Linked DNA regions of Homo sapiens. The protein of the gene in region 2 binds, or shares a complex with, the protein of the main gene of each other region. Each region holds a gene or a part of one and is shown on either strand. Other genes may lie near its edges. The genes, in order: CETN3, NUP153, NUP93 and RANBP2.

Region 1 (7,034 bases), on a different chromosome or scaffold from region 2:
CAGTCTTGGGTATTTCTTCGTAGCAATACAAGAATGACTTAATATACACTTGCTTCCTAGATAACTGTTTGAAATGTCACTACTGCTATAGTATTCCCTACTGATTTTGTGTTAAATTTCTAGTGGACAACCCTTAATGTAATACTCTTAAAAGGCTCACAACATTTAAAGCGCCTCAAATGATACTACACTTTAAACTTAAAAATTTAAAACAAGAATTCTAAAGAAAGATTGCTGAAATAGACAACTCAATTCCGTTCCTGGGAGAGCCCATAACACCGAGTACTAGATATGAGTGAAGGATCCATATAGGTACTATTTTTTTCTATGATCGATCTCCATAACCACTTGTTTCCCCCTAACATACACTTCTACAAGGCAGAAGAGCCCACCAGTACTTGGAAACTGTGTCTCTACTATTTCCTGGTGAATCACAGACTGTTCCTTCATATAGGTAAAACATAGACTTAAATTATTTCTGTGGCTTACAGTTTTCTATTTTCATCACTGTGACATGTAATTGAGTGATAATTACCTTAACAAATCAAAATTCCAAAATTTAAATCTCTCAGTCAAGAAGTTAGAAAATTCAAATTGTATTCATTCAATTTGTTTAAGGAAATATTCAGAAGAAAATTAACTTTCATACTTACAATGATACCAAGTTAAGAAACATAATACACAAGGATAAATGGGTCTATCTGCACAATACTTATTCCTTCTAAACTCAAAGACAGGACTCTTAAAAAAGGAATTAGGCTTATATTGAGTCAGCTTGTATTAAAATATAGAATGTCAAAATTGATGAAATGTTAGGTAATGGAAAAATGTGCCACTCTATTGCTAATTGTATTTCAATTTTTGTTTCAGAAACTAGTAAAATTATAAAGGGAAGATTTAAGAAATCCACTCTTGAGGGTTAACAGATACTAGGAATAAAAACAAATTTACCAAACTTTAAAATTCTAATAAAATAAATATTTTATTAACGAAAGTCTGGAAAATGTGTGCACTAAAAAGTGACTATAAATGTTAAATTAAAAAACCTTCAAAGAACACATATCACACATTCAATTTTTAAAACTTTATATAAAAGCTCTATTATAAATACAAAGCTAAACTATCTGAGTACTAACAACACAGTTCATACAAAGAAACTTAACAGTAGTAAAATACAGATATATAAGATGCTTATTTTTGGTCCTTTAGGATAAAAGAACTAAGTTGGTTTTTTTCACATGGCTCCAGGCACAAAAATAGAATATAAGATGGTAACTGCAACATTCTTAGTGTTTATCCTTGTAATTCTTTAAATGTCACCAGTCATAATAGCAATGAACTCCTCTTGGTTTACTGTGGTAAGAAAGAAAATGAAATAGTCAGAAATATAAACATTTTATTTTTTCAGAATCCACGACTACCATTTTACACTAAGTATTTAAAAAATTTTACATTATGCAAAATTATTACATTAAGACATGGCTTTTTGCTTTTACTTCTTTGTTAGGAAGTGGAACATGTTTATTAAATGTAACTTCTTGGATGCAAAAATACATATAATGTGATAAACATTACAAATTAGTATTCTATAATATTAACTGGGGAAAAGATAATGTTACCAAAAAAGTCAATCACAGTCATATTTGTACATACTTGCTAAAACATTTTAAATGCTTGACATTTCAAGGTTCTTTAAACAACCCTCTTTATAATCTTTATTCTACTAGTTCATTTAGCAAATCCTTCCTTTACAAGTAAGCTTGAACATATCATGCATGTAAATTAGATTTCTAAAGAATGAAAATATAATAAAATTATAAAAAGAAGTTAAATTATTATTTTTTGAACTTTTATATACTTAAAAGCCTATGTTAAAGAATAATTAAAACCAGGTCACCATACCTCAAAGGTATCAATAAAAATGGCAATTTGAAAAGATTACAGATGTAATCTTAATCACCAAAGTAATCCAGTAACTATATAGATGTAAAGGCAGAAAATAATCATGGATAAGGACTAATTTTTAGTTTGCCAAAATTATAAATATAGTAAGAATCTCCAATTTATAAAACATAATGTTTAAGACAGCAACCTAGAAATAAGAAATCAGATAATCTTATAGAATATAATTTTGAAAACCCGACATATGCGCACGTATCAATTAAGAAAAATGTTCAGAAGATACTTCTGGTAAGTATTTAGCATTTAGCCCTAAGACTTAATACATACCTAAACAATGCATAAATTATGAATGATAATTTTGATAATGCCAAAAGAAAACTACACTGAGACTTAAGACCTGGTCTCTAGTCACAGCTCTGCACAGAACAGCTCTGCATCTCATTTCCTTCATCTGAAAACACTGAACTATGAGATGATGTTTTAGATTGTTTAACTCTTATTTACCATAGAAGGTATTATATGAAAATACTCCATTGAATCAAACATTTTTAAGTGGCTAGTGAATGCCAACACCACAATAAGTGTTGCGTAATATATCAAAACAGACACCAGGCTTCCTATTCTGGAATACATTAAAACCGAAATGAGAAAGATATTATATGATATTATAAAATTATTGTTAACTTTCTTAAGTGTAACATTGGTATCATAGCTTTATGAAAGATATATCCTTGTTCTTAGTAGATGGATATGCTAAAATATTAAAGGATCAAGTTTTTGTTTTATTATTAAAATTTAATTAATTAATTAATTAATTTAGAGACCGGGTTATGAGACTGGCTAATCGTTGTATTTTTGGTAGAGATTAGGTTTCACCATGTTGCCAAGGCTGGTCTTGAACTCCTGGGCTCAAGCAATCCACCTGCCTCAGCCTCCCAAAGTGCTGGGATTACAGGCATGGGCCATGGTGCCTGGCCTAAAGACTGAGTTCTTGATATATGAAATTTATTTTCAAATGATTGAGAAAAAAATATACACACGACAGGTAAAGCAAATGCGGTAAAATACTAATTACTAAATCTAGGCAGAAGGTACAATGGTGTTCATTGTACTAGTCTGACAATTTTTCTGTTTGAGAATATTCATAATGAACAGTTAGAAAAAATTAACCAATTAAAAAATGTTGAGGAGATAAAACATGGTCATAGGGAATGAAAAGAATATATACTGCACTGGTTCTAGAAACCACATAGAAAACCGGTTTTGATAACTATGTTAGTCAGTTTTTATACTTGAAACAGAACAAATGTTTTATAACACAAAATACTATTTATTATTAAAACAAAGACCAAATCAGTGTTGAAAAAAAATCCTTCACAATGGTAAAAATTATTACTAATAAGAAAAATTTAGGTAAAGGTAAATCATTACTTGGGCTCTAAAATAAAAATACAGAATTTGGAAAGGAAGTAGAAAGAGAGCTGGGGTGGGAGAATACCATCAGAAATACAGTCAAAGAAAGAATAGTGTATGCCTCACAGAAATAAGCTATGAGTTAGGAAAAATGCACCCTCCAGAAGCTGACAGGGAACTATGAAGCCATGCAATCAGTATTTAACATCTACAAAACACTATGACAAACATGGTAAGAACGTAATACAAAATCTGTAATACTCCAAACTACTTTCAAGAATCTTACAAATTGATGTAGTGATCTTTAACCTTTGCAGTTAAATAGCCATGTCTGAATATCTTAGGAAAGCTATGATCCCTCTCTCTTTCCAATAAATACAGTTCAAATATATAAAATTATTAATCAGTTTAGCCAGTGTGCACCTTCACTGAAGAACTCCCGATTTAGACTGAGGCATCTAGACCAAATAGGAAGCAAGAGTATGTTCTTAAGAACTGTATTAAGAGAAAAAACATAAAACAGCCTTAGAATGATTTGATTACAAATCATTTTAACAGTGTAATACATCCATGATTAAAATATTCAAAATCCAAAAAGTACTTGTTACTTAAAGATCTAGAACTTTTTCTTGATCTGTAAAATTTCAATACTCAAACTGCAAATTTTAAGTTTCATATATAAGTTTGAAAACCACAAAACACTTAATTTTTATATTGTTTATATACAAAAACTTTAAACTATAATAGCATTTCAAAAGTATTTAAAATACGGTCAGCCTTCTGTAACCACAGGTTCCTCACATCTGCAGATTCAACCAACTGCAGATGAAAAATATTTGGGAAAATAACACAATAAAAAATAATACAAATAAAATAAAGTATAACAATTTACATAGCATTTACATTGTATTAGGTATTATAAGTAATCTAGAGATGATTTAACGTATACAAGAGGATATGTGAAAGTTATATGAAAATACTATGCCATTTTATACAAGGGACTTGAGCACCATAGATTCTGGCATCCTTAAGCGACTTGGAACCAATCCCCTGTGCTTATCAAGGGACAACTGAATTCCATGATTCATACCTAAAAACACACTACTTAAACCCAAGAAAGTAAAAATTAGAAAGTGGCTCAGGAAATTAAACTAGCTACTTTACTTTAATTGTCTTGTAGACAATTAAAAGACAATCTTCTATATCTCTGTGCATTTGATTTTATAACCTTCTCTATTAACAATATCTTATATCAAGTTCCTATATCTAATAAATCTACCACAATGCCTAGCTTAAAATAAGCTTTGGTAAAACATTTATTGAATCAAGAAAATATGACACTTTGTTTCCTTTTATACTGCCTTCTTTAACAAAATTTTTCATACATCAACCATTTCATAGAGCAAATCTTATTACAAGTTGCTAACAATAAGAATTTTACAGAACTAAGTAGATTAAGTACCTTAGAGACCATCTGGCTTTGAAGGGGAAAAGCAAATCTTAGAATTGGAAGTTCCAACTGAGTATGTTGCTAATACACTGCTTCCTATAATAGCATGTAATTTTTAAAACTCCATAAACATAGAAGTCTAGTTAATATTTTACTTCATAGCCCGAAAGGCAATACAATATTACGTTTAAAAGCACATTCTTTGCCATTTTGGAGATTTGATTTTGAGTTCTGGCTCTACCATGTACAGTATTAGCTTTGTGATAACCTGGGCAGATTAATAATCTCTCAAAGCTTTAGCTTCCTCATCTCTATATATGCATCTATTATACACATGTATAGGTATAATACTATATCTACTTTACAAGTTATTATGGAAATTAAGTGACATAATTAATGCTAATATCCAATATAGTAGCTGCTAAATAAATGTTAAAAAACATCATCATTATTTAAAAGATTATCCATTCTGGCTTTTCAAAACGTTCCTTTCATTTTTTCCAAAAGATGTGCTGTGTTTTATTTTATATATGCTGTTGAGGGGGCAGGGGGAAGTGACTCTTTCTGTATCATTACCACAGCTTTATGTCTATCTTGTAGTACATCTTATTTACCTTTAACTTCACATTCACCATGTTTATTATTCTATATACCCAATATTTTTAAAATTTCATTGCTCTTAGATACTGAAAAGCATGAAAAAGTCACAAAGAGAGAAGAACACTAAAGTCCACAAAAAAGACAGCAAGGTCTAATCTTTAGCAGTTTAACATACAAATAAAGTGGTTTTTATCTCAACAAAACTTAGTTTCCAGCCAAAAGATTCCATATTAAGTGTATGAAAGTATCAAAACAATTTGTTTCTCTAAATGCTATAGGCCTTCAATGGAAGTCTCATGATTCATAGAGCGTTATGGGAAGCTTTTGGGAAAAAGATGGTGTTTAATATTTACCTGAGAGAATGAATCACATTTTAGCAGGCAGAAATTAACAATTAGAGCATTCTAAGATTAAGAAACAGCAGGATGAAACGAATAGCATAAAAATGTGTTTTCAGGATAGCATATGTTGACAAAATGTGTACATACAGGAGGTGAGGGTTAAAGAAGAAAAGTGAAAGAATACACTGGAAAGTAAAATCAGTTACTCAAGGTGGGATAGATCATAGAAGGCTTTGAACTTTACTCTGTAGGCACTGAAGAATCGTTTCAAGTGTCTAAACACAGAAATGGCATTATCAAATGTATATTTTAGGAAAAGAATGATACCAAGAGACTGAAGAAGAGATTAGAGACTTTTATATGCCGAAAGGGCAATTAGGACACTACAAGAGACTGCAAAGTGAAAGCAAGAACCACATCTGCCTTTTTCATTGTGTAGCACCAGTCAACACGCAGGACACTGCACCCAGTAGGCAGCCAAGGCAAGAATAAATGAGGCCATTATAACATTCCTAACTAGAAATTAGGGCCTGAACTAGGACAGCCACAATGGACAAAGATAAAAACAGATTCAAAACATTTGAAGGGGAAAATCAATAGAACTTAGAACTTAGCATGTAGGTTGAGGGAGAAGCCATTAAAGACTGAAATTATATTGAAAGGCTGAAATTTTGGTGGTTTCACCTTCAGAGAAAAGTGAAGGACCTTCTTGAAGTATAATTGGTTTTAGAGATCTGCTTCATTCTAAATTGAATATGTGAATTATTTAGACAGAAGGTCCATTACAAGAAGCAGTTAAGTTTACAAAAAAGTCTTGCAAGTCATTTGGTTTTAGAAAAATGTATTACATGTGTAGCATCAGGAAAACCTGGAAAATACGTTTCACTTAAAACTTACTTTCTCCATCACCATCTTTGTCAAATTCTTCTATCATAGCTCGAAGTTCTTCATCACTCATGTTTTCACCCAATTCTCTAGCAACACGTCGCAAATTCCTCAAGCTTATTTTACCTGAATCATCATCATCAAATAGTTTAAATGCCTTGAGTATTTCTTCATGGGGATCTCTTTCCAATATCCAGTCTGTCACTACAGTTTAAAAACATATATATTTTAATAAACCTGCATAATCACAAAGGCATTCATTTGTGAAATCAACTAAATATTAGATGAGAATTAAAGCTGTGACTGTCAACTTTTAGTCTGACAATAAAATGTCAAATGAGATCCCCAAACCCCGAGATAAACCTGAAATTAGAAAAATCAAATCCATATTTTAAATGTTAACCTTTTTTATCATGAGCAACTTGTCTTATTATAAAAGTAAG
Region 2 (7,700 bases):
GACACCTTGGATCATAGGTGTTATGCTGTTAAGACATCATCTCCCCAAAATTAGATTTTTATTTTATCTAAGTACATTTAAGCTGTGATCAGGGGCCGGGCGCGGTGGCTCACGCCTGTAATCCCAGCACTTCGGGAGGCCGAAGCGGGGAGATCACGAGGTCAGGAGATCGAGATCGTCCTGGCTAACATGGTGAAACCCCGTCTCTACTAAAAATACAAAAAATTAGCTGGGCGTGGTGGCGGGCGCCTGTAGTTCCAGCTACTCTGGAGGCTGAGGCAGGAGAATGGCATTAACCCGGGAGGCGGAGCTTGCAGTGAGCCAAGATCGCGCCACTGCACTCCAGCCTGGGTGACAGAGCGAGACTCCGTCTCAAAAAAAAAAAAAAAAGCTGTGATAACTTCAGACATCTGGAAAATATTAATTCCCTTCTAACCTCTATTCAGACCATCCAATGACCTATATTTAAAACAAGTCATTTTTCTACATGTCATACAAGAAAATCTAAGCACTCAAAGGCATTCATAGGAGAAAAGAAAGCATGCATGTGTAACTTCCATTCTACAGACGGATTAGGTTAAATGGCCAGGCTTGTGACCTGAATTCTAATCTTAAATCTGCTCGCAAATACCCCTTTTCTTCACAAATTTGAAAACTAAGCACTTTATGTACATATCTGGGGGAAAACTGGTGGGAGTAGTAACAGTGCCAAACCTAACCATCAGTAGAGAACGACTGAAAATACCTGAACCACAATTTTTACTACTCAAACATTTCCCTCAAAATAAAAAACATTTAAGAAAACTAGAAGACAAAAAAAAAAAAATTCCTCAAATCTTTACTTTTTTTTTTTTTCTTCGAGACAAGAGTCTCGCTCTGTCGCCCAGGCTGGAGTGCAGGGGCAAGATCTCTGCTCACGGCAAGCTCCGCCTCCCGGGTTCAAGCCATTCTCCTGCCTCAGCCTCCCAAGTAGCTGGGACTACAGGCGCCTGCCACCACGCCCGGCTAATTTTTTGTATTTGTTAGTAGGGACGGGGTTTCACCGTCTCTGGATGGTCTGGATCTCCTGACCTCGGTGATCCACCCGCCTCGGCCTCCCAAAGTGCTGGGATTACAGGCGTGAGCCAACGCGCCCGACCCAAATCTTTACTTTTAAAAATCTGTTGATAATGACACAATTTAACAACATCAACCATGTGAAAGTGTGTAATCTTTATTAGCATCCAGAATAAAGTAATCTAGGAAGTCTACCTTTAACAGTAGGCAACAAGTTATCAGATCCTTTTGCTACACTTTTGTTTTTCAACAAATTTAAGACACACACTTCCCACCTCAGTATCACTGATAAGTGGCTTTATTAAAATAAGTTAACATTTTCCTATTCAATACTTCTAACAATCAATATTTTAAAAATGGAATTTTCTCAGAATCAACTATCTCATTTACAATTAGGATAATCCTTTTTTATAATTTTAAACATCCAGGAGTTCATACAGTGGCTAAACTATAAGACCACCAACATTCCTGGAGTGTCAAAAGTAACTATACTTCTAGAATACGCCTCATAATATTAAAATATTTTGTGTATGAGATCAGAGCTGGAGTCCCGGTCAACTGTGGAGAATGGCCAATTCCAGCCTCCAAAATAAAGGCGGGGGTGGCGGTGTTGGGGGGGGGGAGGGGAGTCGCGCAGCAGAGAAAAGACGTAAGGGTGGAGAGGGACTTTCAAAATGCCCCAGTGCCACGGTTAACTATAACCTGGTTAATAAAATCTAAGCCAATGCTCTCAAGACGAGGAGGGCCACAGGCAGGGGAAACCGAGAATTAACTCATAGGCTGAGACTAAGTTATTCCACTTTCCATGTAACAGCGCCCCCCACAACTCCCCGTCTGCCCCAGAGTTAAGATTCCAAGGGGCAGCCCCCCCTCCTCAAACACACTAAAGAAGGGACACCAGAAAACAGCAAGTATAAGGGCCATCAACCACATCTTTTCCTTTCTCCCTCGAGAGAACATGAGTAATACCCTCAAATTCCAAATCCCCGCCAAAAAATAAAGAAACGCGCGCATCATGGGCCTACAATTTCTTTTCCCGCCCAGAGCCTGCCTGGGAAAGCCCCTGACCCAGAGAGTTGGGGGAAAGGCGGCCCAAACCACACGTGTGCGCCGCAAGGCTGGGCCTGTCTCAGCCCACTTCCCGTCGCCACCCCCAACGGCCTGAGCTCCCCCGGAGCCTCACTCGGGCCTTTCCTCAGGCCCTCCTGTCTGCTCCACGTGGGGCGCCGGGGCCTCGAACCGCCCGTCCCCTCCAGCCGAGTTTCCCCACCCGCCAGGCCACCGCGGCGTCGGGGTCCCATACCTGATGCTGTTGTCGCCCCTGCTGGTAAGGCTTAATTGGCCCCTGGTGGCAACGCCGCGTCCGGATCTTGCCGCCACCGCCCCCTCCGACTCCTCCGGCTCCCGAGGCCATGGCGGAGCCTCCGCCGCTTCCCGCTCCGGGGCGGGTAAGGGGGCGGGAGAGGCAGAGGCGGAGGCCTTAGAGAGCCTCCCCCGCCGCCCGGCCCCGGCCCAAAAGTCCGCCCGCGCTGTCCACACAGTGGGCACAAGCACCCCAGGAACCGCGAGGTTGCGAGCAGGAGCGGAGAGAGGGTGAGTGCTGGCAGCGGGGAAGGGGGTGGCGGCCGCAGAGGCCGAGGAGGCTCCGGTCCGGCCGCCTCTGCGGACCCCCGCCTCTGTGTGTGTCACGGTCTCTATGGAGATCTCCCGCAGAGGACAGCACGAACAGTTCCCCGCGGTGCTGAGGCCTAACTCGACCGCCGACTGGTGGGAGTTCTTCCGTCGCCCTAGCCGTAGCTGCCGCAGTTGAAGCCGCTGGCGACGCCCGCCTACCCCTCCCCTGTGCGCACAGCGCCCGCCCCGCCGCCGTCGTCGTCGTCGTCCCTGCAGCCTCCGCCGCCGTTGCGCCTATTACCCCTGCTAAGGCGGCTGCCGCGGTCGCGAGCCAGAATGTCGTCACTCATCGGCGCCCGACGCATTTGCATCATCATGCTGCGACGAGCTGATAGGCAAAGAGGAAGGGCTGGTCGAGTCCACGCTCTCGGCCGCGCGGCACGCTGGGAAACGTAGTTCAACAACGGAACGCGGCTTCTCGGAAAGGAAGAGGGACGGGGAAGGAGATCTCCGGGGCGCCGCAGAGGCACAAAGCCAAGGGGTACTTTTGCTGTTCTTGGCTGTAAATTAGACTTTGAAAAGACACTTAACATAAAAACAGTAACCTCTTCCCATTCTCCTTCTCCCTGTCGGTTGGTTAAGTAGGCAGGAAGTAAGCAGACAGTAAAATCAAAGACAAGAGCTAATGATTTAAGAAGGAGGAAAAAAAAATCTGTGGTTGAAAAATAAAGTCCATGATCCTTAGAATTAGAAAATATATACGGCTTCATTAATGTTTCTTTAAACATATAAAGGTTTTGTTGCAGACACACGGGGCTGGAATTCTGGTTCTGCCACCCAACCTATTTGACCTTGGATGAATCAAAACCGTCTGAGCCTTAGCTTCCTCCTCCATAAAATGGGAGCTTTAAAATCCACCTTATAAAGCTGTTGTGAGGAGCAGACGTGATCATCTATGGAGAGCATGTATATTTGCTAATAGACGAAAAATGCGATGAATGATTACAATTATAACCCATGCAGTCAGCTAACATTAGGGGTAAGTGATATATCCTTAACAATAAAAGTATACTATATTTGCTCCAAATATTTAGGAAACTGAGTAAGTGAGCTAGACTCAAAGACTGAATCCACAAAATGTATATTCTAGGAGTTGACGATTAGAAAGGTCCTGGTGATCACATAGTCCAACCCTCTCATTCAACCAACCAGACAAGATGTCCAGAGAAATTTAGGTGGCACAATCAATGACACTGAGATGGGTAATCAAAGCCAGGACTATAACCCAACTTTTCTGTAAGAGCTAAAGACAAATAGCCAAATGATTAGGGAGGAAAAATATGTTGTGAAAAATCTTAGACTTACTATAAATCTTTTTTTTTCTTTCTTTCTTTCTTTCTTTTTTTCTGAGAGACAGAGTCTTGCCCTGTCGCCCAGGCTGGAGTGCAGTGGCGCGATCTTGGCTCACTGCACCCTTTGCCTCCCAGGTTCAAGCTATTCTCCTGCCTCGGCTTCCTAAGTAGCTGGGACTACAGGCGTGCACCACCACGCCCAGCTGATTTGTGTATTTTTAGTAGAGATGGGGTTTCGCCATGTTGGCCAGGCTGGCCTTGAACTCCTGACCTCAAGTGATCCACCCGCCTTGGCCTCCCAAAGTGCTGGGATTACCCGTGTGAGCCGCCACGCCCAGCCTATTTACTATAAATCTCCCACTTACTAGCTGTGTAGCCTTGGGGAAGTTACTGATCCTGTTTCTTTCTTTTTTTTTTTTTTTTGAGACGAAGTTTTTTCCTCTTGTTTTGCCCAGGCTGGAGTGCAATGGCGCAATCTCAGCAACCTCCACCTCCTGGGTTCAAGCGATTCTCCTGCCTCAGCCTCCCGAGTAGCTGGGATTACAGGCATGTGCCACGACGGCCGGCTAATTTTGTATTTTTACTAGAGATGGGGTTTCTCCATGTTGGTCAGGCTGGTCTCGAACTCTCAATCTCAGGTGATCTGCCCACGGCCTCCCAAAGTGCTGGGATTACAGGCGTGAGCCACCGCGCCCAGCCCACTGATCCTGTTTCTAAGCTTCGTTTTTTTCATCAGCAAATAGAGCGAATATTGACCTCACAGGGTAGTGGTCTGGTGAAAGGATTAATGTATATCTAGTTCATAGTAACTGCTTAGATAGAAAGCATCCAATATCAACCATCAATCAGATATAAATAATTAGTTCCAAGACATTTATACTATCTCCACAATCAAACTGCACAATTCAGGTTCATTGTTTAAATCATACAAGTGAAATTGTAAAGCCAGTCTTCTAGTACCTTTGAACTTGTACCTTTCAGCGCCTAAAGAAACTATGCTATACCAAGCATAGGTGTACACATCAATGGCTTTCAGTGGCACCTCTGACCATAACCATCAAGATCAAGACAAGTTGCCAAATATGATAAACAAAATTAATCTATTTTCCGCTGTCTCATCCTAGCTTCATGCCTCCTCCCACCACTAACTTCCCACTAAATTCTCCAGGTATGCCCCCTCTTCCTCCTGAAGCACTTCATCTTTCTTAAAGACAGTTGTTTCCCTCAGGTGCTATCTTCCTCCTATGCAGAAATCCTATTCTTCCACAAATCCATAGCTAGATATTTGACAGCCAAGTAAAGTAATTCACGATAAGCTAACTCATAGGGAAGATCTGTACCTGAATCTTTAATTGGGTTATACGTAGAGGAGATTAAACCATAGCCACATCCCATCTGCCCTCTTCACTCTATGAGACCCAGAGTTTCCACCACAGAACAGAGGACTGACTGGAATCAAAGCTCACCCCTTTCTTGGAGGCTATTCTTTGATGTGCTGGACACCCTTCACAGCCAACCTTTGAAAGGAAGAGAGACGCGAAAGAATTGGGCCAAATGTAGACAATGCTTCAGAAATAGAAGATTGGTAGAACTTGAGGAGATATGGGAAAATCCACATTCCTTTTACCCATGCTCTCAACTTTTTACCCATTTCCACAATTATTTTATTTCTTGGAAGTAAAATAGTATTTGAGGGAACTATAATGCATTAATCTCACATTCATGTGATTGAGTCATTGGAAGCCGTGCCAGGCTTGAGAGCAGAGAAGGAATAAAGAGACAGGAGGAAATCTGCATTCAACCTGGACCTAGTTTTTTCAGCCAAATAAATGGCATATTGGGAGACACTGCAATTCATGAAAAGCTTGTTGCTACAATAGTCCTCCTCTGCCAAGAAACTTCTTTATTTTGTTCCCCATATAATATAGTAGAAAGTGGCCGAGCACAGTGGCTCACACCTGTAATCCCAGCACTCTGGGAGGCCAAGGCGGGTGGATCACTGGAGGTCAGGAGTTCGAGACCAGCCTGGCCAACATGGTGAAACCTGTCTCCACTTAAAAAAAAAAAAAAAAAAATTAGCTGGGCGTGGTGGTGCTCACCTGTAGTCCCAGCCACTCGGGAAGCTGAGGCAGGAGAATCGCTTGAACCATGGAGGTGGAGGTTGCAGTGAACTGAGATCATGCCACTGCACTCCAGCCTGGGCCACAGAGTGAGACTCCATATCAAAAAAATTAAAAAATTAAAACAACAAATATATATATATATGTATATATATATATGTAACCAGCTGCCAATTATAAATTAGCAAATAGGCTGCTGACCCATCTCTAATAGATAAGGAGTATCCACTAATTAAAAGTGAAATACAATTTAGTCTAAACCCAACCTAGATTGAAAAAGAGCCATCATACATTCTTCAGAAGGTACTAATACAATTCTGGCCAAAAGAATGTTTAAAGATGACAAGTACAAGAAGTTACGAAATTTTATGTAGTTATTCCACCTTACCAAAACAAAATGAGGTATCTGCTGTGATGTCTATTAAAACAAATTATCACACTCATGCACAGCATAACAATGTTTCAATCAACAATGGGCCCAATATACAATGGTGGTCCCATAAAGAGCTGAAAAATTCGTATTGCCTGGTGATACTGTCTTTGTCCTAAGGTCTTATTGCAACACATTACTCACGTGTTTGTGGTGATGCTGGTATAAACAAACCTACTGTGTTGCCATTTGTGTAAAAGTGGAGTATGTACAATTATGTACAGTACAGAATACTTCATAATGATAAGTGGCTGTTTCTGGTTTATGTATTTACTATACCTTTTTTTTTTTTTTAACAGGCACTCCTTGCCATTTCCTGTTGCTACCATACTTTATTATTTTAAAGTGTATTCCTGGTCAGGCATGTGGCTCACACCCATAATCTCAGCACTTTGGGAAGCCAAGGCAGGAGGATCACTTGAGGCCAGGAGATTGAAACCAGCCTGGGCAACATAACGAGACCCCTTCTCTACAAAGAAATGAAAAAATTAGTTGAGCTTAGTGGTGTGCACCTGTAGTCCCAGCTACTAGGGAGGCTGAGGCAGGAGGATCACTTGAGCCCAGGAGTCTAAGGCTGCAGCGAGCTATGATCTCACCACTGCAGTCCAGCCTAGGTAACAGAGTGAGACCCCATCTCTAAAGAAAAAAATAAAGAAAATGAAGCTATTGGGTTTATTTATTATTTATTTATTTATTTATTGCCTGTTTGCTTGTATTTTAGGGAAAGAAGGGCCACACAACGGAAAGATATTTAAGGATGTAAATCATTGTATTCTCATTAACTTACTGTGTTCTCTCTCTATTGGGAATAAAGTAATATTTAAGACTAAATTAACTAATATGAGCAAATTTTGATTAACTACATATATCACTTGATTCCAACATGCCATATATTTCCTCTTCCTGACTACATGTATCAATGTATACTAGACTTTGGTATATATGTGTTTATGTACATTACATTATAGTTTAAGGCATATTTTAAATTCAATCTTGAATGGAAACTCAGTTTTATTGGATGAAATAATAACCAAATTTAGGAAGGCAATCCCATCCTAACATTTAAGACAGTTAATGAATTAACTGAGATTAATTCATTAAAACACAAATATTTATTGAGATATTTAT
Region 3 (7,000 bases), on a different chromosome or scaffold from region 2:
GTCAGCCCCCCGCCTGGCCAGCCGCCCCGTCCGGGAGGGAGGTGGGGGGGTGAGCCCTCCGCCCGGCCAGCCGCCCCGTCTGGGAGGTGAGGGGCGCCTCTGCCCCGCCGCCCCTACTGGGAAGTGAGGAGCCCCTCTGCCCGGCCAGCCGCCCCGTCCGGGAGGGAGGTGGGGGGGGTCGGCCCCCCGCCCGGCCAGCCGCCCCGTCCGGGAGGGAGGTGGGGGGGTCAGCCCCCCGCCTGGCCAGCCGCCCCGTCCGGGAGGGAGGTCGGGGGGTGAGCCCTCCGCCCGGCCAGCCGCCCCGTCTGGGAGGTGAGGGGCGCCTCTGCCCGGCCGCCCCTACTGGGAAGTGAGGAGCCCCTCTGCCCGGCCAGCCGCCCCGTCCGGGAGGGAGGTGGGGGGGTCGGCCCCCCGCCCGGCCAGCCGCCCCGTCCGGGAGGGAGGTGGGGGGGTCAGCCCTCCGCCCGGCCAGCCGCCCCGTCCGGGAGGGAGGTGGGGATGTCGGCCCCCCGCCCGGCCAGCCGCCCCATCCGGGAGGGAGGTGGGGGGGTCAGCCCCCCGCCCGGCCAGCCGCCCCGTCCGGGAGGGAGGTGGGGGGGGGTCAGCCCCCCCGCCCGGCCAGCCGCCCCGTCCGGGAGGTGAGGGGTGCCTCTGCCCGGCCGCCCCTACTGGGAAGTGAGGAGCCCCTCTGCCCGGCCAGCCGCCCCGTCCGGGAGGGAGGTTGGGGGGTCAGCCCCCCGCCCGGCCAGCCGCCCCGTCCGGGAGGGAGGTGGGGGGGGTCAGCCCCCCTGCCCGGCCAGCCGCCCCGTCCGGGAGGTGAGGGGCGCCTCTGCCCGGCCGCCCCTACTGGGAAGTGAGGAGCCCCTCTGCCCGGCCACCACCCCGTCTGGGAGGTGTGCCCAACAGCTCATTGAGAACGGGCCAGGATGACAATGGCGGCTTTGTGGAATAGAAAGGCGGGAAAGGTGGGGAAAAGATTGAGAAATCGGATGGTTGCCGTGTCTGTGTAGAAAGAAGTAGACATGGGAGACTTTTCATTTTGTTCTGCACTAAGAAAAATTCCTCTGCCTTGGGATCCTGTTGATCTGTGACCTTACCCCCAACCCTGTGCTCTCTGAAACATGTGCTGTGTTGTCCACTCAGGATTAAATGGATTAAGGGCGGTGCAAAAAAAAAAAAAAAAGAAATTTAGCATTTAATTTTAAGCAGAAACTCTGCCCTCAAACCTTATTAATCAGACTATGACAGGAGTAAAACACAAGAATGGTGTTCAACATTCTTGTGAATGATTCTTTCTTTTCTCATCCAAGATTGATGAGAAAAACCTCCACCCAAGGTATCAAAAGTTTAATACTGATTCTGTTCTCCTCTCTTTTGAATACATAAACTAGCTAGATGACAATATCATTCCACTTTTTACTATTATCTGTCAGCTGTCAATTACAACAACAACCCCAAAAAAATTAAATCTTGACAGACATCATTGTTTCAGATGCCTCTGGAAGAGAGAGGAGAGGGAAAAAAAAATTGTTGGAAAGTTCTTTACAGCCCTGTGAGACTAAGTAAAAGAGACCTTATCATTATTCAAAAGGTAGAGTTCTGGAGAAAACAAAGACCTAAAATAAATTAACCTAGACAGAAGAAAAAGACTTGGGTGATTTAGTAGCAGTACTGCCCTCAGTGACTCAATGTTTGCAATAAGGAATGGGTAGTATCAGCTTTCCTGATACATAAAATATCACTTGTATTATTTCCTCTTCAATGAGCAAAGAGAAGTAATAACCTGGCATCACAAAGAAAAATAAATTATCCACATAGTAACTTTCTGATAAACTCTTGGCTGTCCAGCAGAAGGCCCAGCTGGGAAGAAAGTGCTGTGGACTACAGCTTGGCTCCATCCCACGCCAGCCCTCTGACCCTGGGGCTGGATCGTCTCTGGATGAGGGGGTTGCTCAGGTGATCTCTAAGGGCCTGCTCACCTTAAAGAATTTACAAATGTGAGATGTTTTAATTCGGTCTTTAAACTTACTTGATGCTTCCTGGGAAACAGCCCCATTTTAGTGGTGATGGAAATTATCTCTACAGAGAACCTTAGGAATGATACTAGTTCTGTCTTACAACTAGCATAAACAGGGGCAGATCACCAAGTCGGCCCCAAAGGGCCTGTGGCTTTGGCTCTGGCTCTGGCTCTTCTCTCTAAACCAATGCTACTCAACTTTGCCCCACAGGGGACATTCAGCAATAGCTAGAGACATTTTTGGTTGTCACAACTTGGGAGGCAGAAGGTGTGCGGATTCTAACAAAAGTCTGGGTCCCTACCATTATAATTTTAAAACCATTGCATTTACAGAATTATCCCACTTGGGCTTTTTATGGCAGTATATTCATACCTTGGTATACCACACACAGCAATGGAAAAGAAACTACAGACTACACAGAACATGGATGAATTTCACAGACATCACAATGAGCTGAAGAAGCCAGATACAAAAAGAAAAAAAAAAAAGCACCGTATGACTCCATTTATATGGATCTTAAAAACAGAAAAAATGAATCTATGGGACTAAAGATCAGAATACTGGTTATCCTTGGGAGTGTAGGGGGAGTGCTGATTGGGAGAAAGCACAGCAGAGCTTTTCGGGTACTAAGGACTGAACTGTATTCTCTCAGAATTCCTGTGTTGAAGCCCTACCCCACAATGTGATGCTATTTGGAGATGGGGTCTTTGGGAAGTAATTAGACTCAGATGAGGTGACGTGGGTGGGGTCTTCAGGATGGGATAAGTGCCCTTAGACACACCAGAAAGCTTGCTTTCCTCCACCTACCTCTCCCCACACATACACATCAAAGAAAGGTCTTGACTACACACTGAGCAGCGAGGAAGAGGGCCCTCACCAGAACCCAACTATGCTGGCATCCTGATCTCGGACTTCCAGCCTCCAAAACTGTGAGGAAATAAATTTCTGTTTAAGCCAGAACAACAGATATTTTGATATTTTATTATGGTGATCTGAGCTGACCAAAGTACCAGAAATGCTTTATATTTCAATATGGACAGTGGTCACATAAGTGAATAAATGTGTAAAAATTCCCTAAGCTGTATACTTAAGGTTGACTCACAGTTTTTTAGAAGGAATAGCAAGAAACAAAGCACTGACTTAGCAAGAAACAACCTAGCATTACCAAGGTGAGAGTTGGGAGACTTTTCTACTTTTCATTTGATTCCCTTGTCAGGGCAAATTCTTTTCCATGAGTATATGTGATCTTACATAATTTTTAATAACTTGTTAATTTTAATATTGCTCTAAATTCCCTACTTCACAGTGTGTGTCTCACCACTGCCCTTGAAGACTCAATGGCAATGACTGTCAAATCCACACCTGCCCCCGTGCACTCAAACTCCAACCGTGAGTTTCCAGGCACCACTGGTGCATCTCCTCTCAAGCACATAACTGTCACACCCACCATGTCTCCAAATGCAGTTATCCACCCCCAACTCCTCCTCCGCCTCTGCCCCTGGCTTCTGTCTCCCAGGTTCTAACTCACCCTGTTCCTTTGCATCTCTGTGTTACCTCAGATTGTTTACTTACAGGTGTCCCTCCACTCTCAGACTCAGAAACCAAACACATGTAGATACATTTTTCCATAGCAAGCAGGCAGGTATTCCTCATTATCCAAACTATTGCTACTCTCTAACTAAAACTCAGGAAACGAAATACTACAGACTCAGATAACATGATATTCCTCACTCTCCAAACTCTCATTACCGAAACAGATTATTTATTTATTTATTTTTGAGATGGAATCTCGCTTTGTTGCCCAGGCTGGAGTGCAATAGCGTGATCTCAGCTCACTGCAACCTCCACCTCCCGGTTTCAAGCAATTCTCCTGCTGACTCAGTCTCCTGGGTAGCTGGGATTACAGGCACGTGCCATCACGCCAGGGTAATTTTTGTATTTTTAGTAGAGATGGTGTTTCACCATGTTGGCTAGGCTGGTCTTGAACTCCTGACCTCAGGTGATCTGCCTGCCTCAGCCTCCCAAAGTGCTGGCCTTACAGGCGTGAGCCACTGCACCCAGCTCCTAAACAGATTTAAATAGCATGGGGTATTTATATTTTTGCAACATCCTCTAACTATTGCTTTCATCCCCATCACTACCACCTAAGGCCAGACCTTCATTCCTTTAAGTCTAAGTCCTTCTTACATGCTAGAACATGGGCTTCCTCCTCCTAGCCCTGCCCCCAACTCTATGCACCCTACTCTCTGTGGCCACCTCTAGCTTCCTTTTTTTTTTTTTTTGAGACGGAGTTTCACTTTTGTCCCCCAGGCTGGAGTGCAATGATGAGATCTCAGCTCACTGCAACTTCCACCTCCCAGGTTCAAGCGATTCTCCTGCCTCAGCCTCCCGAGTAACTGGGATAACAGGCACGCACCACCATGCCCAGCTAATTTTTGGGGTTTCACCATGTTTGCCACGCTGGTCTCGAACTCCTGACCTCAAGTGATCCGCTCGCCTTGGCCTCCCAAAGTGCTAGGAATACAGGCGAGGGCCACTGCGCCCGACCCCATCTCTCTTTCTGACACGGCTGTTGCCCCTGCTCAAAAAACCTCACTGGCTCCCATTCACAGGGATCCATCCAGGTGAGTCACTGCTTTTAACTTTCTACCTCCCAGAATAAACCTTGTGTACCAGTCACTTGATTTACTTGGTCCCTGACTATCCTTGCACATGTCCTGCTCTGTGCCATTTTTCCCAAAAAGAAACACCTACCCAACCTTCCACTGCAGCCCTGAGCTCCAGCCAGCTCCTTCACTCTTTAGCTCGATGACTTTGGGCAAATTAATTACTCTCTCTGGGCCTCATCTGTGAAATGGAAAAATAACTGCATCTCCCTCACCTGTCACAAAGTAACCACTCAATAAACATTAGCTATCATTATTACCACCAACTCAAGTCCTACCTACCAAATGGTCTTCCTCAATACACATTACCTACAGAAAGTTTCCCTCATCTAAATTCCTTTTACTCCATTCATTTATTTGCCCGACATCATCTCCTGAGCTCTGTCTGTGTATGAGTCCCCACTATGGGCTTTATTTGTATAATCTAATGTCATCCTCACAGCAGACCTCTGGTGTCCAAAGGGACCAACTGGTACACAGGTTTTTCAGCAGGGCAACAGCCGTGTCAGAAAGATAGAGATGGGCACAGACAGTAGGGTGCATGGAGTGGGAGGGGTTAGGGGGAGGAAGGCCGTATTCTAGCATCTAACAAAGACTTGGACCTTCCCCATCTTCCTCATTTCAGTAAATAGTATCTTCATGCTAGAAGTTGCTCAGGTCTAAAACCGTGGCATTGTCCTTGACTTCTTTTCTCCTCTTATACCCTACATTAGCAATTCATTTCTACACTACATTTATTCATATATACATGAGTCAGACCCACTTTTTGTCTCTTCTACCACTATCATCCTGGTGCAAGCCACTCTCATGTGTCACATCTGGGTGATATAGTAGCTTCCTGTCTCCCTGTTCTTACTTTGTCCCCTCCCACTTCCCAGTCTGTTCTCCACACCACACTGGGAAGGATCCTCTAAAGGGGCTCAAACCTTCAATAGCCCCCGTCACTCACAGGCTGAGATCCAAAGTCCTTACCCTGTGCTGTGAGGCCTACATGACTGTCCCCGACCCAACTCCTTCTGTTACCACTCTTCCCCAGGATTATGTACTTTGGTCCTATGGCCTTCCACTCTTCTTCAAATATGCTAAATACACTGCTGACTTGGGCTTTCAGTCACTGTTTCCTCTGCATCTGCAGGAATATTCTCCTCCAAAATACCTACCTAGCTAACCCCCTTAATTCCTTCAAATCTCTGCTCAAAGGTTTCCTTTTTAAAGAAGCTTCTCAGCACACCCCAGCTAAAGCAGCCCCACCGTCCACTCTACCACATTTCTGTTTTACCTCGTTGGTAGTATGTTATCAATTTCTGGCATCACATGCCTACCTGTTTGTTCATTTATTGTCTGTCTCCTAACAGGCTCCTTGAGTCTGGGAACCTTGTCTGGTCTGTCCACAGCCCCATTCCCAGTACACTGAACAACAGCACCTAATGCTCAATAAATATGTGTTAAATGAATGAAGGAAGGAAGAGAAGACTATAACTTTGGTGTACCTAACAGATCAATGTAGGAATTTTTGGCAAGGTTTGAGAAAGTTTCTTCTGGCTTTTAGCAACTGTGTATGGGGGATCTAGCTGTTTGAGGACACAGTTGAAGCTATAAAAAAGTATAAAGCTATAAAATATTTCAAACGTTATGTTATTCAGGGGAGAAGAGATGGAGGTATTAACAGACATTAATACAAGGCAAATAAGTGAGCTAGGAGGACTCTAATCTATCAAAACAAAGGGGATTCTCATATCTCTATGTCCAGCCCAACTCTTTTCCCAAGCCAGTATTTCCAACTGTCCACCTAATACCTACACCTGGATGACTCATGGGTGCCTCAAACTACACATGTCCCAAATCAGACTCATCACTTCTCTCTCCTTAGCCACTGCCACCACCAATGCTTCCTTCTCGTGGGTTCCCAGTCTCTTTTCGTAAAACAATTAGCACACAGTCAGGTAAGCCAGGAACCACCTTCAAGTCACCCCAGCGCCCCTTTCACCTCCTCAACACTCAGCCAATCTCAAGCTCTACTTCTCAAACCTTTTGCAAAGTCATACCCTCATCTCTCGCCCCTTCTCTGACTTGCACGCCGACTAAGCCTTCTTGTTCCTCCAATCAACCTCCCCATGGTCAGGGAGGTCTTTCTGAAATGCTTTCCTGCCTTAAGTCCATCAGGGACACCTTCCATCCCCTACAGAATAAGATGCTCATGTTTTGACAGAGCTATAAAGGGTGCTCTCCATAGAACAGACACTGCCACCCTTACTATCCTCATCCCTCGCTGCCTTCCCCCAATTATATACCCTAGCAATTCTCTATTCTTTGGGG
Region 4 (7,034 bases), on a different chromosome or scaffold from region 2:
AGTATAAAAATTAAGAGTTTAAGTGCATTGGACGTATTATTATATACATAATAAATTCTCTGCAGCTACTACTTTTTTCCCTTTCCTGGTGGAGCATTTGAACATCACCTTGAGAATTAGTTGTATTTTGTTTCAGCATGGGGTTAAGTGAAAAGCTAATTTGGGGAGGTAACGCGGAATGTCAGGTAGTCCAGATTGCAGTGCAGAAAGAACACACTGAAAGGATGGTCAGTGTAATGTTAGAGGACTGTGAAAGTTGAGGAAAGAAGTTTAGTTTGTAGATACTTGTTTTTTTGAGCAGGGAATTGTCTTGGCTGGAGGTGAACGTCAGAAAGGTTAATGTAGGCAAGTGTAGAATGGAAATGAAGGTGTGATCATTTAGGAGGTTATTTGTTTAGGTGAGAGTTAATAAATTAGGTTTTGTATTAATAAATGAAAATGGGAGCAGATAAATTTTTAACAAATTAAGAATCATATTTTAAAATCAGCACCAGGTACCTAGAACTCACTGGCAAATAGAAACTTTCAAAAGATATAATCAGGTCCGGGCGTGGTGGGTCACACCTATAATCCCAGCACTTTGGGAGGCTGAGGTGGTGGGTCACTTGAGGTCAGGAGTTCAAGACTAGCCTGGCAAACATGGTGAAACCCCATCTCTACTATTACACAAAAAATTAGCCAGGCGTGCTGGCTGACGCCTGTAATCCGAGCTACTCAGGGCGCTGAAGTGGGAGAATTGCTTGAGCCCAGGAGGTGGAGGTTGCGGTGAGCCAAGATTGTGCCATTGCACTCCAGCCTGGACGACAGATCGAGACACCATCTCAAAAAAAAAAAAAAAAATCAGTTATTTAAATTTAAAAGAGTAAGTTTCCCCAGCACTGTTTCTGTCATGATATAATTAAATGTTTAAAATTATTTGATTTTTTTTTCTTCCAATAGAAAGAAATGCAGGAGTTGAAACTAAATAGCAGTAACTCAGCATCCCCTCATCGTTGGCCCACAGAGAATTATGGACCAGACTCAGTGCCTGATGGATATCAGGGGTCACAGACATTTCATGGGGCTCCACTAACAGGTGAGCTGGCAAGTGGATAATCGCATATTTTAGTAAAACTACTTTACTTCCCTCTTTTAAGTAGATAACGTGTGAAATCACCTTGTTTATATATGTTTGTTAATATACATGTCAACGTCTGTTTATATGTGACTTCAAAAGCTGTATTTGGTGTTACGGAGATTTTTATAATCCCAAGCAGAAAAAACGAGCCGTATGTGATCACGTGTATATAAAGGCTTAAAGAACACTTAATCCACACCTCAGATGAGCTGAGATGAGATTATTCCTTAAATTGAAAAATGTTAATGAATAGAGTTATGCACTAAGAAATGCTTAATTAAGAACCTACACCTCTGGGGAATTATTTTGATGATAATGATGAGAGGCAGGACGTTATATAGGAAATCTTACTTAATTTGAAATATTATGGTTATATAAAGAAAGAAAAGGAGTTTGGACCTGAATCATACTGGGTTTTTAAGTTCTGCTCTATCACTTACTATAATAGCTGTGTAAGATAACCTGTCTGAAACGTGGAGATAATACTTGCCTTACATAATTACTATGAGCATTTGTGTATGTGCAGGTGGGCGTGGGTGTGTATCAGACATTTATTAGAGTATACAGTAAACAGTTAATGAACTAAGGTTACTAATAGTGTTTACTGTGGGTTGGCTATGTGCAAAAGTGCTTTGTGAATGTAATTTTATTTAATTACAGTAACTTAGAATGGCCGGTACCATTATTAATCCCTTTTTTATAAATAAGGAAATTAAAGAAAGGTTAGGTAACTTACTCATTATTATACAGCTAGTTATTGATAGAGCTGAGATTCACACTCCGGTGGTGTAACTCCAAAGCACTTGCCAGTATAATACATTGCTCCCAGGCAGCGAGAAATAACAAAATTGTTCCTTTTACGTACGACAGACTTCTGAAATGGTAGTAGTAGTAGTGCCCTTTTTTTTTCTCTTTTTAGCCCAGGAAAGATTTAGAATAAAATCTAGTTTAGATGAGCACATTTGTGTGATGGTTCATATAGTTAAGGCAACCCCACTAGCCTTTTGTGATAGTATCTTCTCAACACAAGCAAAATAACAGAAAATCTTTGTGAAATCAAGCTTATTAAATGTCATAAGTCATAGATAAGTATATGAAATGTCTAACGTTCAAACCTTGTTTTCTTAAAACCTTACACATCATATAGGTCCTTGTAAGAGGATAAACAAACCGGCTAGCCTTTCCTGGGGCTTTTTTAGTGATGTGTGCAGTCAGTTATTTGGTGCCTTGTGGGTCATGATTTCCATTTCTTCTGTGTACAGGCATAAAAGATCTTCTGTTCTTATACAAGCATGTAAATCCAACATTCTCATTGTCTCATTTTATTCTTGCAATGACCCTGTGAAATGTGTAGAAGCAGCACATCCTCATTTTACAATTGAGAAACATGGAGACTCCAAATGGATTATTTACAGGTTCACAAAACAGCTTTGTGGCACTGAAAGGGCGAGAGCCAAGATCTCCTGATTTCTGTTCCTGTGTTCATAGATTCTTTTTCCTTAATAAAAGTAAACATATATCAAGATGGTCCTTGTTTTTTAAAAATAAGATGATTAAAATTAAAGATTAATGAGCTCATAGGAGATACTCAGAAGTACTGAACAGGGTGAAGAAAACTAAAAGCTAACCACCTTATTAACATTTCCTATATTTGAGAGCATTTCCTTCTAGTTCTTTCTCTATACATATAGTATTTTTTATGAGATTGTTACCATGTTACTATGTTGTGTGTAGATGAGCTAGCCTGTTTTTTAAATGTTACTTTAGTTCTGAGCATTTTTAAACTTAAATGTTTTTTGAACATTAATGAGTTCATGGTATCCCATCACATGGAAGTACTGTAAATTCTGTTCCTTTATTTATGTTGTTTCTGGTTTATGCCATTACAAATTCTAGGACACTGTCCTAGTTTTATAGGGTATTCAGAATATTCAGTTTATGCTCTTACCACTAGTATCTGATAGTGCCATTTTCGCACTTTGCTAATGCTGACTTACTGGTTTATAAAATCCTTTGCCAATTTGTAGGAACAAAAGTGATATCAATTTTTAAGTTTTTTTAATACTAGTCATGGTCAACAATTCATGCAAATGGCAGTTGGTAGTTTTGCCATCTTCAACGTGGGTACCTCCCAGTTGTTTGGTTTCTTGGTAAAACTCACACAAAACAGATGGAGAAGAGTTTGTATATCAACATGAATGTTAATGTGATTTTTTTAAAGCCCGCGAACACATTTGTGTTCCTTGTGATCTCCTTTGCATGAATTTGTCAGGTAATTTTTTTGACCTGAACATTCTCATAATAGCTTCAGTTTGCCCAATGCAACCTCATCATTTTGCGGATTTTTCAAGGCTCACTTCAAAAACATGTTCCTTGAGGCCTATTAACATTTCTTTCCTAAATTGTCTATTCATATGGTGCTTTTAAAAGTTAGATTACTTTTAGTAGATTTATTAGAGCCGCACAGTTTAGAGTCAGTAGTCAATTAAAGTCCCTACTTAAACTTCAGACTAAGATTTTTTTTTTATTTAATATTTTATTTTTTCTTTTTGCTTTCATGCAGACAGACATCTTGCAAGACTTTAAGATTCTTGGGCCATTTCTGTCAGGTTGTTCTGTGTTCTGTGCCTGCTTCCTCCCCATAGTAATTTCAAAATAGCTATCCTCACCTCTGTAAGGTTTCCAAAATCAAACTTGGGCTTCTGGCTAGCCTTTTCTAGGTCTTGATTTTTCAGTGCTTTCCAGAGGCAATTGTTTGGAACCTCTTGGCACAGTTTCTGTTTCTTTTTCCATGTACAGGCATAAAAGGTCTTTTGGTTGTTTTCTGGTAAAACTATCATAAAACAGTTCAAGCAAATGACTATTGGTAGTTTTGCCATTAACATGGGTGCCTTCTAGTCATTTTGTTTCCTGGTAAAACACACAAAACAGAGGGAGCAGACAGTTTGTACATCAGCATGAGTGTTGATGTGCTTTTTATTTTAAGCCAGGGAACACATTTTATGTTATTTATGACATCCTGTCCATGAATTTGTCAGGTGATTTTTGAGCTGAACATTCTCAGTAATAGCTTTAGTTTACAAAATACAACCTAGTCTTTCTGCAGATTTTCTAGGCCCACTTCAAATGCATTGACCATCAGATGGCATCTTGGTTCCTTACGTCCTTTCTGTGACTGAATGTCCATAATTCCACATCATACTGATCTTTCTTAGAAAAGGCAACAGTTACTTTCTTCTTTATTCCTTTTTTAATGCTTGTGAGGTAGTTGTTCTTGTTGATCACAGCAATGCTATTCTCTTATTCTTCATGTCATATTTAGCAGTTTTTTTCTAGTTTGTCATTTGATAATCTTGATTGGTGTATTTTGATGTACAGAAATTTAAAATTTATGTAGTTAAATCTTTCTTTAATTTCTATTGCCTTTGTATTTATAGCTCTTGCCTAGATAGTCTTAACTGTAGTATAGACTTTAACAGTGTTTTCTTTATTTTCTTTTTGTTTTTTTAGTTGCAACTACTGGCCCTTCAGTATATTATAGTCAGTCACCAGCATATAATTCCCAGTATCTTCTCAGACCAGCAGCTAATGTTACTCCCACAAAGGTAACAAAGGAATAATTTATACATTTATAATTATTTCCTTTTTAAATTGTTTAGGGTTCCTTCAAATAAATTCAAGAGAGCAGTTCACTATTAAAACTTTTATGTCCCTTAAAATGTAGATATTTTAAATTTATCTCCAAATACAGAAATTATCCTTCTTAGTCACCTTATTTTTGTGTTAATAAGTGTGAATATTTAGAATATTTTAAAAATGGGAGTGGTGGTGGTGGATCCTTCATCGTTCTGTTTTAACAGAAATAGAACTGTAATGCCCTTGCTGACCCACTATGTGGTAAGTACTTTCAGGCCTGATACAGCTATATATATAACAATTGATTGAAGACTCAATATTACAGTGGTAGTTGAATGTGACAGCTTTGAGGACAGAGTGTTGGGGTGCATTTAGACCCTTGCTCTTCTGCTTATTTTGACCACAGGCAAGTTTCTTAACCTCTCAATGCATCAGTTGCCTCATATGTAAAATGAGGATAATAATAATACCTTAATTCATAGGGTTTTTGAGGATATTAAAATGAGATAATAATGTAAAGTGCTTAGAACAGTGCCCAGCTGGCACATTAATAAATGCTCAATAAATGTTACCATCATCATCATCATCATCATCATCATCATTAACATCATTTGATAAATTAGGAATGAAGAAGGTATTTATTTTATGACTTTAGCTGTAGATTTTAAGATGCTATACATAATTTTCATTATATGCCAAGTATATATGCAAGTATCTTTGTAGTAATGTGGTTTTCTCTTAACCTACTTATGCCTAGTGCTCCATTATTGGAACACTAAGCTTATGGGAGTTATTTATATCCTACTGCTCAAGGTCATTGCCAAGGTCTGATTTTTCACACAGAAAATTTGCAGCCTCTGGCATAAACGGGTTAATGATGTGTACTACATCCCCTAATGAGATCTTCTTCACTTCATATTCATGTTTGAAGTTTGTGAGAATTGGTTTGCATTTAGTTATCTGTAGTTTTGTAGACAATCTACAAAATGTTTTAACTTTCTGTCTTTTAGGGCCCAGTCTATGGCATGAATAGGCTTCCACCCCAACAGCATATTTATGCCTATCCGCAACAGATGCACACACCGCCAGTGCAAAGCTCATCTGCTTGTATGTTCTCTCAGGAGATGTATGGTCCTCCTGCATTGCGTTTTGAGTCTCCTGCAACGGGAATTCTATCGCCCAGGGGTGATGATTACTTTAATTACAATGTTCAACAGACAAGCACAAATCCACCTTTGCCAGAACCAGGATATTTCACAAAACCTCCGATTGCAGCTCATGCTTCAAGATCTGCAGAATCTAAGACTATAGAATTTGGGAAAACTAATTTTGTTCAGCCCATGCCGGGTGAAGGATTAAGGCCATCTTTGCCAACACAAGCACACACAACACAGCCAACTCCTTTTAAATTTAACTCAAATTTCAAATCAAATGATGGTGACTTCACGTTTTCCTCACCACAGGTTGTGACACAGCCCCCTCCTGCAGCTTACAGTAACAGTGAAAGCCTTTTAGGTCTCCTGACTTCAGATAAACCCTTGCAAGGAGATGGCTATAGTGGAGCCAAACCAATTCCTGGTGGTCAAACCATTGGGCCTCGAAATACATTCAATTTTGGAAGCAAAAATGTGTCTGGAATTTCATTTACAGAAAACATGGGGTCGAGTCAGCAAAAGAATTCTGGTTTTCGGCGAAGTGATGATATGTTTACTTTCCATGGTCCAGGGAAATCAGTATTTGGAACACCCACTTTAGAGACAGCAAACAAGAATCATGAGACAGATGGAGGAAGTGCCCATGGGGATGATGATGATGACGGTCCTCACTTTGAGCCTGTAGTACCTCTTCCTGATAAGATTGAAGTAAAAACTGGTGAGGAAGATGAAGAAGAATTCTTTTGCAACCGCGCGAAATTGTTTCGTTTCGATGTAGAATCCAAAGAATGGAAAGAACGTGGGATTGGCAATGTAAAAATACTGAGGCATAAAACATCTGGTAAAATTCGCCTTCTAATGAGACGAGAGCAAGTATTGAAAATCTGTGCAAATCATTACATCAGTCCAGATATGAAATTGACACCAAATGCTGGATCAGACAGATCTTTTGTATGGCATGCCCTTGATTATGCAGATGAGTTGCCAAAACCAGAACAACTTGCTATTAGGTTCAAAACTCCTGAGGAAGCAGCACTTTTTAAATGCAAGTTTGAAGAAGCCCAGAGCATTTTAAAAGCCCCAGGAACAAATGTAGCCATGGCGTCAAATCAGGCTGTCAGAATTGT

What was found.
Region 1: NUP153 (region 2) and CETN3 share a complex: the UniProt entries of both Homo sapiens proteins name them as parts of the nuclear pore complex.
Region 3: NUP153 (region 2) and NUP93 share a complex: the UniProt entries of both Homo sapiens proteins name them as parts of the nuclear pore complex.
Region 4: NUP153 (region 2) and RANBP2 share a complex: the UniProt entries of both Homo sapiens proteins name them as parts of the nuclear pore complex.

Annotation. Positions count from the first base shown.
Region 1 is NC_000005.10:90,392,755-90,399,788, forward strand, and holds part of CETN3 (centrin-3), read right to left. Parts: intron 6,796-7,034; coding exon 6,604-6,795; intron 3,811-6,603; coding exon of another isoform or gene 3,739-3,810; intron 1,354-3,738; coding exon 1,310-1,353; 3' UTR 1-1,309. UniProt on the Homo sapiens protein: Plays a fundamental role in microtubule-organizing center structure and function. As a component of the TREX-2 complex, involved in the export of mRNAs to the cytoplasm through the nuclear pores.
Region 2 is NC_000006.12:17,703,918-17,711,617, forward strand, and holds the start of NUP153 (nuclear pore complex protein Nup153), read right to left. Parts: upstream 3,009-7,700; 5' UTR 2,471-3,008; coding exon 2,360-2,470; exon of another isoform or gene 2,213-2,359; intron 1-2,212. UniProt on the Homo sapiens protein: Component of the nuclear pore complex (NPC), a complex required for the trafficking across the nuclear envelope. Functions as a scaffolding element in the nuclear phase of the NPC essential for normal nucleocytoplasmic transport of proteins and mRNAs.
Region 3 is NC_000016.10:56,733,129-56,740,128, reverse strand, and holds part of NUP93 (nuclear pore complex protein Nup93), read right to left. Parts: intron 1-7,000. UniProt on the Homo sapiens protein: Plays a role in the nuclear pore complex (NPC) assembly and/or maintenance. May anchor nucleoporins, but not NUP153 and TPR, to the NPC. During renal development, regulates podocyte migration and proliferation through SMAD4 signaling.
Region 4 is NC_000002.12:108,757,474-108,764,507, forward strand, and holds part of RANBP2 (E3 SUMO-protein ligase RanBP2), read left to right. Parts: intron 1-939; coding exon 940-1,075; intron 1,076-2,471; coding exon of another isoform or gene 2,472-2,584; exon of another isoform or gene 2,585-2,640; intron 2,641-4,627; coding exon 4,628-4,722; intron 4,723-5,763; coding exon 5,764-7,034. UniProt on the Homo sapiens protein: E3 SUMO-protein ligase which facilitates SUMO1 and SUMO2 conjugation by UBE2I. Involved in transport factor (Ran-GTP, karyopherin)-mediated protein import via the F-G repeat-containing domain which acts as a docking site for substrates.